Regions from separate parts of the Homo sapiens genome. Here regions 1 and 3 are each linked to region 2. The links come from fine-mapping of genetic effects on gene expression. A gene starts in region 2. Each other region holds a variant in brackets. All regions are shown on one strand. Distances are from middle to middle. Region 1 overlaps KIAA0319. Region 2 holds the start of KIAA0319. Region 3 holds the start of LOC124901277 (a long non-coding RNA gene).

What was found. PIP is the estimated chance that this variant, and not a neighbour inherited with it, causes the effect.
Region 1: its variant is the best candidate, but not a certain one, in a credible set for the expression of KIAA0319 in putamen (GTEx, PIP 0.77).
Region 3: its variant is the best candidate, but not a certain one, in a credible set for the expression of KIAA0319 in cerebral cortex (GTEx, PIP 0.52).

Annotation. Positions count from the first base shown.
Region 1 is chr6:24,590,745-24,594,989 of GRCh38, reverse strand. All of the region lies in intron 3 of KIAA0319, which reads left to right. Among named protein-coding and RNA genes, the nearest start is that of KIAA0319, 53 kb to the left of the region's middle. The variant C/T (reference allele first, on the strand shown) is at 2,042.
Region 2 is chr6:24,644,508-24,648,752 of GRCh38, reverse strand. It overlaps KIAA0319, which reads left to right and starts at 2,562. Exons shown (of 21, transcript NM_014809.4): 1 at 2,562-3,017. RefSeq lists a silencer at 2,508-2,717.
Region 3 is chr6:24,536,979-24,541,223 of GRCh38, reverse strand. It overlaps ALDH5A1 (aldehyde dehydrogenase 5 family member A1), which reads right to left. Exons shown (of 10, transcript NM_001080.3): 10 at 4,017-4,245. LOC124901277 (a long non-coding RNA gene) reads left to right here and starts at 1,172. Exons shown (of 2, transcript XR_007059507.1): 1 at 1,172-1,209; 2 at 1,544-4,245. It also overlaps a transcript of KIAA0319 not described here. RefSeq lists an enhancer at 1,458-2,657. The variant C/T (reference allele first, on the strand shown) is at 2,313.

The sequences.
Region 1 (4,245 bases), 54 kb after region 2:
GCCTAAGTGTTAATGGCAGGAGGTCAGGGAGACAGACAATGAGAACTGTGTGGTGAGGAGAGAGTAGTTGGAGAGCTCAGAGGTTGCTTGTTTGGAAACTGGTCAGGACTTGAGAATGTGGTGAGCATGTTGATCAGAGGAAGCTGAGTATAGGTGGAAATAAAGTAAAAAAAAAGCTTGGAGTACTTCAAGAATTTTTTAAAGGAAAAGTTTTCCTTCTTTAGATTCCAGTACTTATGTTAGAATAAGTGAGGAATGCTGAATTGAATTGACTATACATTATAATCTCAACCATGAAAAATTGTTTAAAAATGTCTAGAAGTCATTTTTAAGTGTTTTTTTTTTTTGTTGTTTTTTTTTTGTGAGACAGAGTCTTGCTCTGTCGCCCAGGCTGGAGTACAGTGGCATGATCTCGGCTTACTGCAACCTCTGCCTCCTGGGTTCAAGCGATTCTCCTGCCTCAGCCTTCCAAGTAGCTGGGACTATAGGTGTGCACCACCATGCCCGGCTAATTTTTGTATTTTTTAGTAGAGATGGGTTTTCACTATGTTGGCCAGGCTGGCTTCGAACTCCTGACCTCAAATGATACCCCCACCTCGGCCTCCCAAAGTGTTGGGATTACAGGCATGAGCCACCGTGCCCAGCCAAGATTGAATCAGAAGGTTTTTTTCTGCTTATATTTTTCTGAATTTTGAAGTGTCTATATTTTTCCTTACTTATAATTGGATTAAAATGAAAAAACTTTCTTTTTTTTTTTTTTTTTTTTTTTTTTTTTTTTTTTTTTTTTTTTTGAGACAGAGTCTCACTCTGTCACCCAGGCTGGAGTGCAGTGGCATGGTCTTGGCTTACTGCAACCTCCGCTGCCCAGGTTCAAGTGATTCTCCTGCCTCAGACTCCTGAGTAGCTGAGATTACAGGCATCTGCCACCACGCCCAGCTAATTTTTGTATTTTTAGTAGAGATGGGGTTTCACCATATTGGTCAGACTGGTTTTGAATTCCTGACCTCATGATCCACCTGCCTCGGCCTCCCAAAGTGCTGGGATTACAGGCATGAGCCACTGCACCTGGCCTGAAAAAACTTTCAATTAAAAATAATCTGAAAGTATTAGAGATTAACCATGTTCTTTATTCATATCAGTAAATATTAAAATAATTTACTCTCTTTCATGTTGCCAAGTCATTTACTTCCTGGTTTATACAGATGGAACTCTCTGAAATCAAGCTCTATTAAAAATCTTTTGGCTCATTAGTTCTTTGAGGTTGGTTTTGTTAAAAGATAATTATTCAGGGCCGGGAGCAGTGTCTCATGCCTGTAATCCCAGCACTTTGGGAGGCCGAGGTGGGTGGATCACGAGGTCAGGAAATTGAGACCATCCTGGCTAACATGGTGAAACCCCATCTCTACTAAAAAATACAAAAAATTAGCCAGGCGTGGCGGTATGTGCCTGTAGTCCCAGCTTCCCAGCTACTCGGGAGGCTGAGGCAGGAGAATGGCGTGAACCCGGGAGGTGCAGCTTGCAATGAGCCGAGATCGCACCACTGCACTCCAGCCTGGGTGACAGGGCGAGACTCTATCTCAAAAAAAAAAAAAAAAAAAAAAAAGATAATTATTCAAATAGGTGAAATTGTGAATTGTTTAGATATAAAATGAACACGTGTTAGAGATTTTATTCTACTCATTACTCACTGAAGGAACTAGATTATAATTATCCTACAAGAAAACCTGAAGAACAGGCACATTCATAGGTTAAAAAATATATTGAAATGAGTGTGCAAACAGAGGCAAAACTGGGTTTCCAGTGAGGAAAGGAGGGAGTTCAGTTGAAGCTCTAGCAGACAGGAGAATTTACATGTCTATAGACAAGAATTATTTTACATTTTTATCATTTTTATGACCTATAACTTACAGAGTTGTAAAAATAGCTCAAATACAAGAATGACTAGAGGCAGATAACCTGGAGAGGTATCCAGTAGATAATGTTTTTTTTTATTTATTTTTATCTTATTTTAATTTTTTGAGACAGGGTCTCACTTTGTCAC[C/T]GAGGCTGGAGTGGAGCAGCGTGATCTCAGCTCACTGCAGCCTTGACCTCCTGGGCTCAGGCAGTCCTCCCAACTCAGCCCCACAAGGTAGCTGGGACTACAGGCATGTGCCACCACACCCGGCTAATTTTTATGTTTTTGGTAGAGATGGGATTTCGCTATGTTGCCCAGGTTGGTCTCAAACTCCTGAGCTCAAGTGATCTGCCTGCCTTGGCCTCCCAAAATGCTAGGATTACATATGTGAGCCACCTTGCCCCACCGATAACATGCTGCTTTCCATTGAAATGCAAATTTTCCTCTGAAGTACATTAGATTTGTAGACAATCTCTGAATAAGTGTTCACAAAAATTACATGCATAGCATAATAAGAAGTCATTTGCTCAAGCCCAATACACTGATGCACAACTGTAATCCCAGCTACTTGGGAGATGGAGGTAGGAGAACTGCTTGAGGCTACGGGTGAGAGACCAGCCTGGGCAACAGAGTGAGACCCCATCTCTTAAAACAAAAAGAAAGAAAGAAAAGAAACTATTTCATTCTGATGCAGTGCAAAGTTTGGAATTGATGACAGAAACTAAGATCTTTTCTCTCACCAAAAAAATATGTAAAATAGTTCAATTGTATTTGGTAAAGGTATCTAGAAAATTTAATGGGGAAAGAATAGTATTTTCAACAAATGGTGTTAGGACAACTGGATATTTACATGCAAAAGAATGAATTTAGACCCCTATCTCATACCTTATTTTAAAAAAATTAACTCAAAATGGACCAACGTTCTCAATATATGAGTTAAAACTATAAGAGACATGGAAGAAAACTCAGCATAAATCTTTGTAAACTTAGGCAATTATTTCTTAGTACATCAAAAGCATAGCAATAAAATAGAAAAATGGTAAATTTGAATTAATAAAAAGTAGAAACTTTTGTATTTCAGATGACAACATCAAAAGAGTAAAGCTTTCTTGATGGAATAAATATACCATAAAATGGGATAAATATACCATAAATATTGTATACTGAATATATAAATAACTCTTACAACTTAATAATTAAAAGACAAATAACCCAACTCAAACATGGGCAAAGGATCTGAATAGACTTTCTCCAAAGATCATAGAAGAATAGCCAAGAAGCACATGAAAAGATGCTCAGCACCATTAATCTTTAGGGAAATGCAAGTCAAAACCACAATGAGATACCACTTCACATCTACTAGATGGCTAGAATAAAATCTAAAAATAGATAATAAGTGTTAGTAAGGATGCAGAGAAATTGGAACTCTCATACACTGCTGGTGGGAATGTGAGATGTTGCAGCCACTTTGGTTTGTTTTTGATTTTCGTTTTTTGAGAGACAGGGTCTTGTTCCACACCCAGGTCAAAATGCCACGGTGCAGCATGGCTTACTGCATCCTTAAACTCCTGGGCTCCAGTGATTCTCTCACCTCAGCCTCTTGAGTAGCTGGGACCACAGTGCCCAGCTAATTTTTTTTATTTTTATTTTTGTAGAGATAGAGTCTCACTCTGTTGCCCAGCCTGGTCTCAAACTCCTGGGCTTAAAGAATCCTCCTGCTTTGGCCTCCTAAAATGCTGGGATTACAGGTGTGAGCAATTATGCCTGGCCCCAGTGTAGCTGCTTCGGAAGACAGTCTTGCATTTCCTCAAAATGTTAAATGCAGACTTAACCATATGACCCAGGAATTCCACTTCTGGGTATTTACACAAGAGAAAGAAAACATGTCCATATAGAAACTTGTACATGAATGTTCATAACAGTACTATGCATAAAATAGTGCCATTGAACAGGGTATCTAGGAAAAATAAATCAAGATCAAACTTGTAGAGGATAAAGGACATTTTTTGCAACTGTGTTTTCCTGTGGACAAGACTAGAGAAATCACCTAAAACAAGTTGTTTTAAAGTAAATGAGTAGAGAACATAGAAACAAGAGCCATTTGAAACTTTTGCTGACGAGGCCCAGGTTAACTTGAAGGCTGAAATGGGTGATGCTGGTGCTCAGTGGCTTCCATAGAGGATTGATTTTTCTTTGGAGGGGTTTGTCAGAGAGGACCTTGTGTCCTGATGACTTAGTGAGTAGTTCTGTGGTGGAGGTTGTGGGTGGATTACTGAATAGTGAAGGGAAGAATTGGCATGTGATTCCAGCCTGGAGAGGCAGCATGGTGGAAAAGTGAATGTTTTAGAGAA
Region 2 (4,245 bases):
AAGTTTTTCCAGTGTAGTAGCTTTGCTTGCCTTACCTTCCTGCTTAGTGAAATTCCAACATAGAATCTTCTGGGTTTTTTTTTTTTTTTTTTTCAGTCTCAACCTCCTGGGCACAAGTGATCCTCTAGCCTCAGACTCTTGGGTAGCTGGGATTACAGGTGTGCACCACACACCCAGCTACTTTTTATTTGTTTTTGTTTTTTGTACAGAGAGGATCTTGCTATGTTGCCCAGGCTGGCCTCGAACTCCGGGGCTCACTCAATCCTCCTGCCTCGCCCACAAAGTGCTGGGATTATAGGCATGAGCCACTGTACGTGGCCTAAAGTCTTGTATTTCAATGAGGCAGCACTGTCATTACGCTAAGCACCATTTTTACCACTGATGTGGAATGTACTTTAACCTTCCTAAACCTCAGTTTTACCCACCCTCAAAATAAGTTATCTTTTATTGTACAAATGTCCCAACCAAAAGCATAAGCAAGAGCAGACAAAGTTAATTATACTAAGGATACATCATTTTATCCTTACTACCTCTTGCAGTGTCTGGCATATAGTAGGAGCTCAATGGATGTCCACTGAATGCTGAAAAGAAGTGAAAGGTAGTAGCCTCACATCTGTGTCCTAAAGAAGGAGACTAACATTTTCATACAATACCAAAATAGATATATTCATTAAAAATGAAAATAGATATTCATTACAGTGTCTCTGAGTTAAAAAGATGGTATAGTTAAACATTCTGGGCTAAGCCTGTGTGTGTGTGTATGTGCTAAAAATATGTTTCTTTAAAGGCTAATCAGCCAAGGATCGTTGGGGACAAAATCAGATTCATTGGCTTGATGCATTGAAAGAGTACCTGTGGAATGCCATGTGAGCACAGAAAGGAGGAAGTGTCTTTTGTAAAGATTTGGCTTCCTATTAAAGGATTCCAGGGAGAGTCTTGGAATCAGAGCTGGGATCCAGTTGGTTGCTGTTTCTGAGGCAGATTGAGAGAAAGGGGGATTAATGAGGGATTGGGTGCTGTCAGGAGGTGAAGGGAGTTTAGCAATTGGGTATCCCCAGTTATGGATGGGAATAGTAAAGCAAAGGTAGAAAGTAGTAGTCATTCAAAAATGGAACACAAGGAGTTGTGTTGTTTTGTACCTGCTGCGTGACTTCAGAGGAAACAACATTGCCTGTTAATTTTGCTTCTGACTTTGTCCTCTCAGCCTGATCATTGATCATTGGCAGTACTAACTTTTCCAAGTCCAAGCTGATTTTCACTCTTTGAGTCCTGGACAGGTTTTTACTCTTTAGTTTTTATTTATTTATTTATTTATTTATTTATTTATTTATTTATTTATTTATTTATTTTGAGACGGAGTCTTGCTCTGTCGCCCAGGCTGGAGTGCAGTGGCACGATCTCGGCTCACTGCAACCTCCGCCTCCTGGATTCAAGCGATTCTCCTGCCTCAGCCTCTCAAGTAGCTGGAACTACAGGCGCGGGCCACCACTCCCGGTTAATTTTTTGTATTTTTAGTAGAGACGGGGGTTTCACCGTGTTAGCCAGAATGGTCTCGATCTCCTGACCTCGTGATCCGCCCGCCTCGGCCTGCCAAAGTGCTAGGATTACAGGCGTGAGCCACCGCACCCAGCTGGTTTTTACTCTTTAAATGTGCATTATCTTATTTGATTCCCAGAATCATCCTATATGAATGCTATTATCTTCATTTTATAATTGAGGAAACAGGTTTATCTAGATTAGGTAACTTGTCTGAGGCTCTTCGGTAAATACGAGTAGCCAAGAAGCTTATTCATCAACAGTGTGTGACTCAGCCCTAAGCACTGCACTTATACCTCCTAGTAATGAGATGTGCGAGGAATGCCCTGGCTACCTTTTCTGCTCATGATATTATCCCTAGATGCTTTCGCATCTTTATTAAAACAGTAAAAATGCAAGAGTCTTCCACCCAAGTTTTCTGTGGTTTAGATTATCACGTTCCTCAAGATGCAAATGTCAAACTATACTGGGCATCCAGTTAACCTGCAAGGCCTGGAGGTGATGGGAGCCCCTCCTAGCACAGGTTCCCAGTCTCAGTCAGAAAGCACCTGCTCAAAATAGAAAGATAATTACAGAGTAGGGGCCAAAGAGACTCCCACTGGAAGAATGGAACTTGTGTAGCTGGGGTGACACAAGCTGGGGACAAGCTGGGGGACACATTCGCGAAGGGTGTTTGACCCAGGCAGTGCACCCACGGCTCCCTTGAGCCACCCTGGCCCGGGTGTTTATTTGGAAGGAGTGTTCATCCCCCAGACTGTTTAGGGCCACGGTGACAGGGAAGGGCTTGGTGAAGGAAAGCAGGTAGGGTATGAAGGCCGCTCAGGTTCACGAAAGACTTTTGCTTGGTCCCCTGCGGGGTGGGAGTGTGTCGCCCCGGTGCGGGTACTTAGAGCGCAACCGGGGAGCTGAGCAGGGGAGCTGAGCAGGGGAGCTGGGCAGGGGCGGCTGCCGCGCCCCACATCCCTGAGGGCGTGTGTGCGCGTGCGCGCGCGTCGCCGTGGTAACCGCGGCGGCGGAAAGGCGCTGAATCACTGGCGCGCGCTTTCCCCGAGCCTGCAGAAGCTGCCGCGGGCGGTGGGCGGGGATCCCCCGGGGGTGCAACCTTGCTCCACCTGTGCTGCCCTCGGCGGGCCTGGCTGGCCCCGCGCAGAGCGGCGGCGGCGCTCGCTGTCACTGCCGGAGGTGAGAGCGCAGCAGTAGCTTCAGCCTGTCTTGGGCTTGGTCCAGATTCGCTCCTCTGGGGCTACGTCCCGGGGAAGAGGAAGCGAGGATTTTGCTGGGGTGGGGCTGTACCTCTTAACAGCAGGTGCGCGCGCGAGGGTGTGAACGTGTGTGTGTGTGTGTGTGTGTGTGTGTGTGTGTGTGTGTGTGTGTGTAAGACCTGCGATGACGACGAGGAGGAACAAGTGGGACGGCGAGTGATGCTCAGGGCCAGCAGCAACGCATGGGGCGAGCTTCAGTGTCGCCAGCAGTGACCACAGGTACGGTATCTACTTCCCAGAGCGCCTGGCCGAGAAATAGGAAAGAGGGCAGCCAGTAGGCAGGCCAATACCCAACAAAAGTAGAATCGAGACGCCCTGAGTTCAGAAGGTGAGTTTCTTAAGATTCTTCTGGGCATTCAGGAAAGGGCATTTTTTGATTGCTGCACTGATTGTTGACTAGTAGGGTGGAGTCGGGGAAATTTGAGTGTCTTTTCCCAACCTCACGAATTGCATTTTTTTAGAAGTAAGGAATCGTTTTCTTTAAACTTCATTCAGAACTATTTATGTGATCTTTCCTATTATTTGCTAAATGCATTTTGTCTCTGTTCCTTACCATAACCTGAAGCTTAAAATCTTTCTCTTCTTCCCTTTGAATTCCCTCCAAGGAATGTCACAAATTAATCGGGAGGATAAACCTGAAATTTTGAGAGTTATCATCTTAAGGTCATTTGTTAATTAAATACAAGGAGGAAAAATATGATATACATACTCATGTGCACTTTTATTGCTGGTTTGTTCATCAAAACATTTTTGTTTGTCGGTGAAATGTTAGTATTTTTTCCACTGCTTGAATTGAAAAGTTGAATGATGTTTTTGATAGTAACAGAAAAAATAAATTGTAGACAATGTTCCCCCCCACACACAAGAATTTTGGAAGTAAATGTTGGTATTTATTTCTTTATTCCTGAAATACATGCTCACTTTCCAAATGCTTCAATTTATTATAAGAAGACCACAATTGTAGAGACTACTAAAGTTATGCCAAATCTAAACTTTTATTTTGTGCTTTTTTTAGTATTATTTTTAATTCAGATGAGGAAAACTGGAGGTGTCAGTTCAGTTATAGACGTAGGAGTCACAGAGAAAGGTGAATTCCTCTGTAATTTGAAAAAGGGAAATGTAAACATATTACCTAAGTACTCTGATTTATTTGTATTAACCATTTGTAATGCATTTGCATTTGTAATGCAAAATGCCGAGGCAAGAACTTAATTTTTGTTTCGAAATAATGAAAATAATTCAGCCAAAATCTTTATGAATTAAAAATAGCCAAAAGAGAGCTTTGGTAATGTATGAATGTAAAAGAATAGAGTTGCTGTTAAATTTTCTTGACTTTTTTTTTTTCCCTAGCCAATAGATAGGAAGCATTCTCTTTAAATAAATACAGTAAGTCCTCACTTAACATTCTTGATACGTTCTTGGAAACTGTGAACCTTTAAGCACAACG
Region 3 (4,245 bases), 110 kb after region 2:
AAACCTGCCGACACCTTGATCTCGGTCTTCTGAGAATTCATTGAGCGATTCACTTATTCAATTATGTATCCTTTTTTTTTGCATGTATATAATAGTGAAAGGAAAGTTTAAAAAAGCTACCAATCTTGCCAAGTTACTTTCAAAGTCATTTATGAAGAGGTACTGCCAGGGATTTCCTAGGTAGAGATGAAACAGTTCTGTATCTTGATTCAGGTGCTGCCTACACAAATCTAACTATTGATGTGATCAAATTAGGTAGAGGTGTACAAACACTCACATACAAATGAGTGCACATAAAAACGAGTGAAATTGGAATAAGGCCTGGATTAACAGTTTTGCACTGGTATCAGTTTCCTGGTTTTGATAATTGTATTACATAGGTAATAAGCGAACCACTGGGTGAAGGGTACACGGGACTCTGCATTATCTTTGCAACTTCCTATGAATTTATAATTATTTCAAAATTAAAAGTTTAAAGATGTTGAGAAGGAAAGGCCAGATCCACATATCAACAGTAAAATAAGCATTTCCATTAAAATCAGGAACAAAGTTAAGAAAGGAAAAAAAAAAAAAGAAACAAAGTCACCATTTCTCCAACTAATTGGTCCCTAGAGCCTCTCTTGTTGAGTTGAGATTAGCAAGCAGCAAAGCTTCCTTTATTTGAAGCCTACATGGAGAGTATTATCACCTCCATTCTCCTAAAGATGATGAACCCAGAGTTGCAGGACTGAGACTTTATTGCAGCAGGAAGAGAGCACATAGGCTTATACGGTCATGCCTGGCATAGTGAAATTTCTGTCAGTGATGGACTGCATATATGATTTATGGACCCATGAGATAATGGAGCTGAAAAGTTCCTGTCACCTAGTGATGTCGTAGCCATCATAAAGTCCAATGCAGCCCAATGCATTAATCATGTTTGTGGTGATGCTGGTGTAAACAAACCTGCATTCTCAGTTGTATAAGAGTATAGCACATACAATTATGTACAGTATATAATAAGTGACTATGCTACTGGTTTACGTATTTATTATACTGTACTTTTCATTGTTATTTTACAGTGTACTCCTTCTACTTATTAAAAACAGTTTATTGTAAAACAGTATGTGGCTGGGTGCAGTAGCCCACTCCTGTAACCCCAGCACTTTGGGAGGCTGAGGCTGGAGGATTGCTTGAGCCCAGGAGTTTGAGACCAGCCTGGACAACATGGTGAGACTCCATCTCTATAAAAAACATGTTTAAAAGTTAGCTGGGTGTGGTGGCGAATGCCTGTAGTCTCAGCTACTCAGGAGGCTGGGGTAGGAGGATCTCTTGAGCCCAGGAGGTCAAGGCTGCAGTGAGCTGTGATGGTGCCGGTGCACTCCAGCCTAAATTACAGAGTGAGACCCTGTCTCAAAAACAAAACAAAACAAAACAAAAGAAATACTGGGTTATACCAGCAGTATAAACGTGTCTTGTTTACTGTGCCTCTTGATTGCATTATTTTCTCTTGTGCTTCAATTAATCTCGTGTTGCTTTGTTCATCACGGTCCCTTTGTCATAGAAAATCCACGGCTATTGTTGCCAGTAAGAGGCCACATCAAGTGACTGATCTTGAAACAAGAGATTAAGGATTACCAACCAATGGGTAAAGGAGTTACAGCAGCTTTTAAGGCCCACTGCCTGAGGAGGAGCAGCTTTGCTCAGGTTATTACTGCAACAAAGGAAGACACGGAGAAGACGCTGATGCAATTCTGAAAGGATTACATCTACGACTCCATCAGGACCCTTGCTTGGGCTTGGGGTGATGTTACCAAGGAACGTATAAATGACATCTGGAAGAAGACACTCAAGAGGTTCATCCGTGATTTCAAAGGATTTGCCAAGGACAAGGAGGTTGCAAAAACCAACAAGGCTGTGGTTGAGATGGCAAACAATTTTAACCTGGGGGTGGAAGAAGAAGACATTGAGGAGCTCCTACAGGTGGTTCCTGAGGAACTGACTAATGAGGAGTTGTTGGAACTGGAACAGGAACACATACCTCAAGAAGAGGCAAGGAAGAAAAAACTGCAGAAGAAAAAGAATCCCCATGAAAATTCACAGTGAAGAGCTGAGAAGTTTTTGCAGACCTCAGTAAGCGCCTTAAAAATTCTGAAAACATGGGCCCCTCAACACCAAAAGGGTTTCATTAACAGAGAGGAATGTTCTTTATGCACTGTCTGCTTACAAGCAAATCTATGATGAAAAAGGAAAGCAAGCAAACCACCATGGACATATTTCTGATGCATGACATCTCCTAAGAACCTCAGGTAGGTCTTGTTATCCTAGCTCCA[C/T]GTTTTTTTCTTTTTTGAGTCAGGGTCTCACCTTGTCACCCAGGCTGGAGTACAGTGGTGCGGTCACGGCTCACTGCAGCCTTGACTTCCCGGGTTCAAGCGATCCTCCTGCCTCAGCCTCCTGAGTAGCTGGGACGACAGGCACGTGCCACCACACCTGGCTAATTTTTGTATTTTTTGTAGAGACAGGGTTTCGCCGTGTTGCCCAGGCTGGTCTTAAATTCCTGGGCTCAAGCGATCCGCCTGCCCTGGACTCCTGAAGTGCTAGGATTACAGGCGTGAGCCACTGGGCCCAGCTGTCCCTGCGTGTTATTGCCCCTGAAGACCTTCCAGCGGGGCAAGATGAGGAGGTGGGAGATAGAAATATCCATGAATCTGACCCTTTGTAGGCCTAGGCTAATGTGTGTAATTGTGTCTTAGTTTTTAACAAAAAAGTTTAAAAAAATTTAAAATATAAAAAAGCTTGTGGAACAAGGATATAAAAAAAGAATATATTTTTATACAGTTGTGCAATTAGTTTGTGCTTTAAGTGCTAAGTGTGATCACAAAAGAGTCAAAAAGTTAAAAAATTTTAAAAATTTATAAAGTAAAAAGTTACAGTAAGCTAAGGGTAATTTATTATTGAAGAAAGAAAAATATTATTTAATAAATGTAGTGTAGCCTAAGTGTAGAGTGTTTGTAAAGTCTAGAGTAGTGTGCAGTCATACCTTAGGCCTTCACATTCACTGTCACTCACTGACTCACCCAGAGCAACTTCCAGTTCTGCAAGCTCCATTCACGGTAAGTGCCTTTTACAAGTGTAATTTTTAAATCTTTTATACTTGATTTTTACTGTACCTTTTCTATGTTTATATACATAAATACTTGCCATTGTCTTACAACTGCCTACAGTATTTAGTACAGTAGCATGCTGTGCAGGTTTGTAGCCCTAGGAGCAATAGGCTAGACCGTATAGCCTAGCTGTGTAGGAGGCTGTACCATCCAGGTTTGTGTAAGTACTCTACAGTGTTCGTACAAGGACGAAACTGCCTAATGACGCATTTCTCAGAATATATCTCTGTTGTCGAGCAATACGTGATTGTAAAATGTGAGACGACATTTGCAAAAATGTCCACTAACCACTGGGCAGCAGTGCTGTCTGTGTTCTAAATTATGGTGAGGGCTGGCTACAATGGTGCACTCCCATAATCCCAGCACTTTGGGAGGCTGAGGCGGGAGGGTGGCTTGAACCCAGGAGTTTGAGACCAGTCTGGGCAACACAGTGAGACCCTGACTGTTCAAAAAATGAAAGAAAAATTAACTGAGTGTGGTAGCAGGTGCCTGTGGTCCCAGCTACTCAGGAGGCAGAGGTGAGAGGCTTGTTTGAGCCCAGGAAGTCATAACAGTGGGGCGTGTAGGAGAGAGAGATAGGCCAATCTGTGACGGCTGGCCTATACACCTTTCTGTGACCGCCACCTCTGCAAACCAGGTAAATTCTCAGTTCAGCTTAGCAAACATTCTATAAGCGCACACCATGGACAGGCCCTTCTCTGGGTTTTAGGGCACATCATTTCACATGCTGGCTCCTTCCCCAAGGCACTCACTGATTACGGCTCTCTGGGGGAGGGAGTGCTATTTACACAAATGCAAACTGGTCTAATATCATCCAATAAAAACTCAAAAGATCACCAAGTAGGGGGAAAAAAGCACAACCAGACACCTTAATACAGGGAGAGGAAATTCTGTTAATTCCACGTTTATTAATCACACAGCTCTCTGCAGACTAGACACTAAAACACACAATTGTCAAAAACTAGAAAAATGAGTTATGTCCACGTTTTAAAAGCAAAACTTTATAAATTTCTTACCACACTCATTCCCAAGTTTTATCCCACAAAGTATAGCATGAAACAATGACAACATACATATTATTCAAGTAAAATGCTATTTAAAA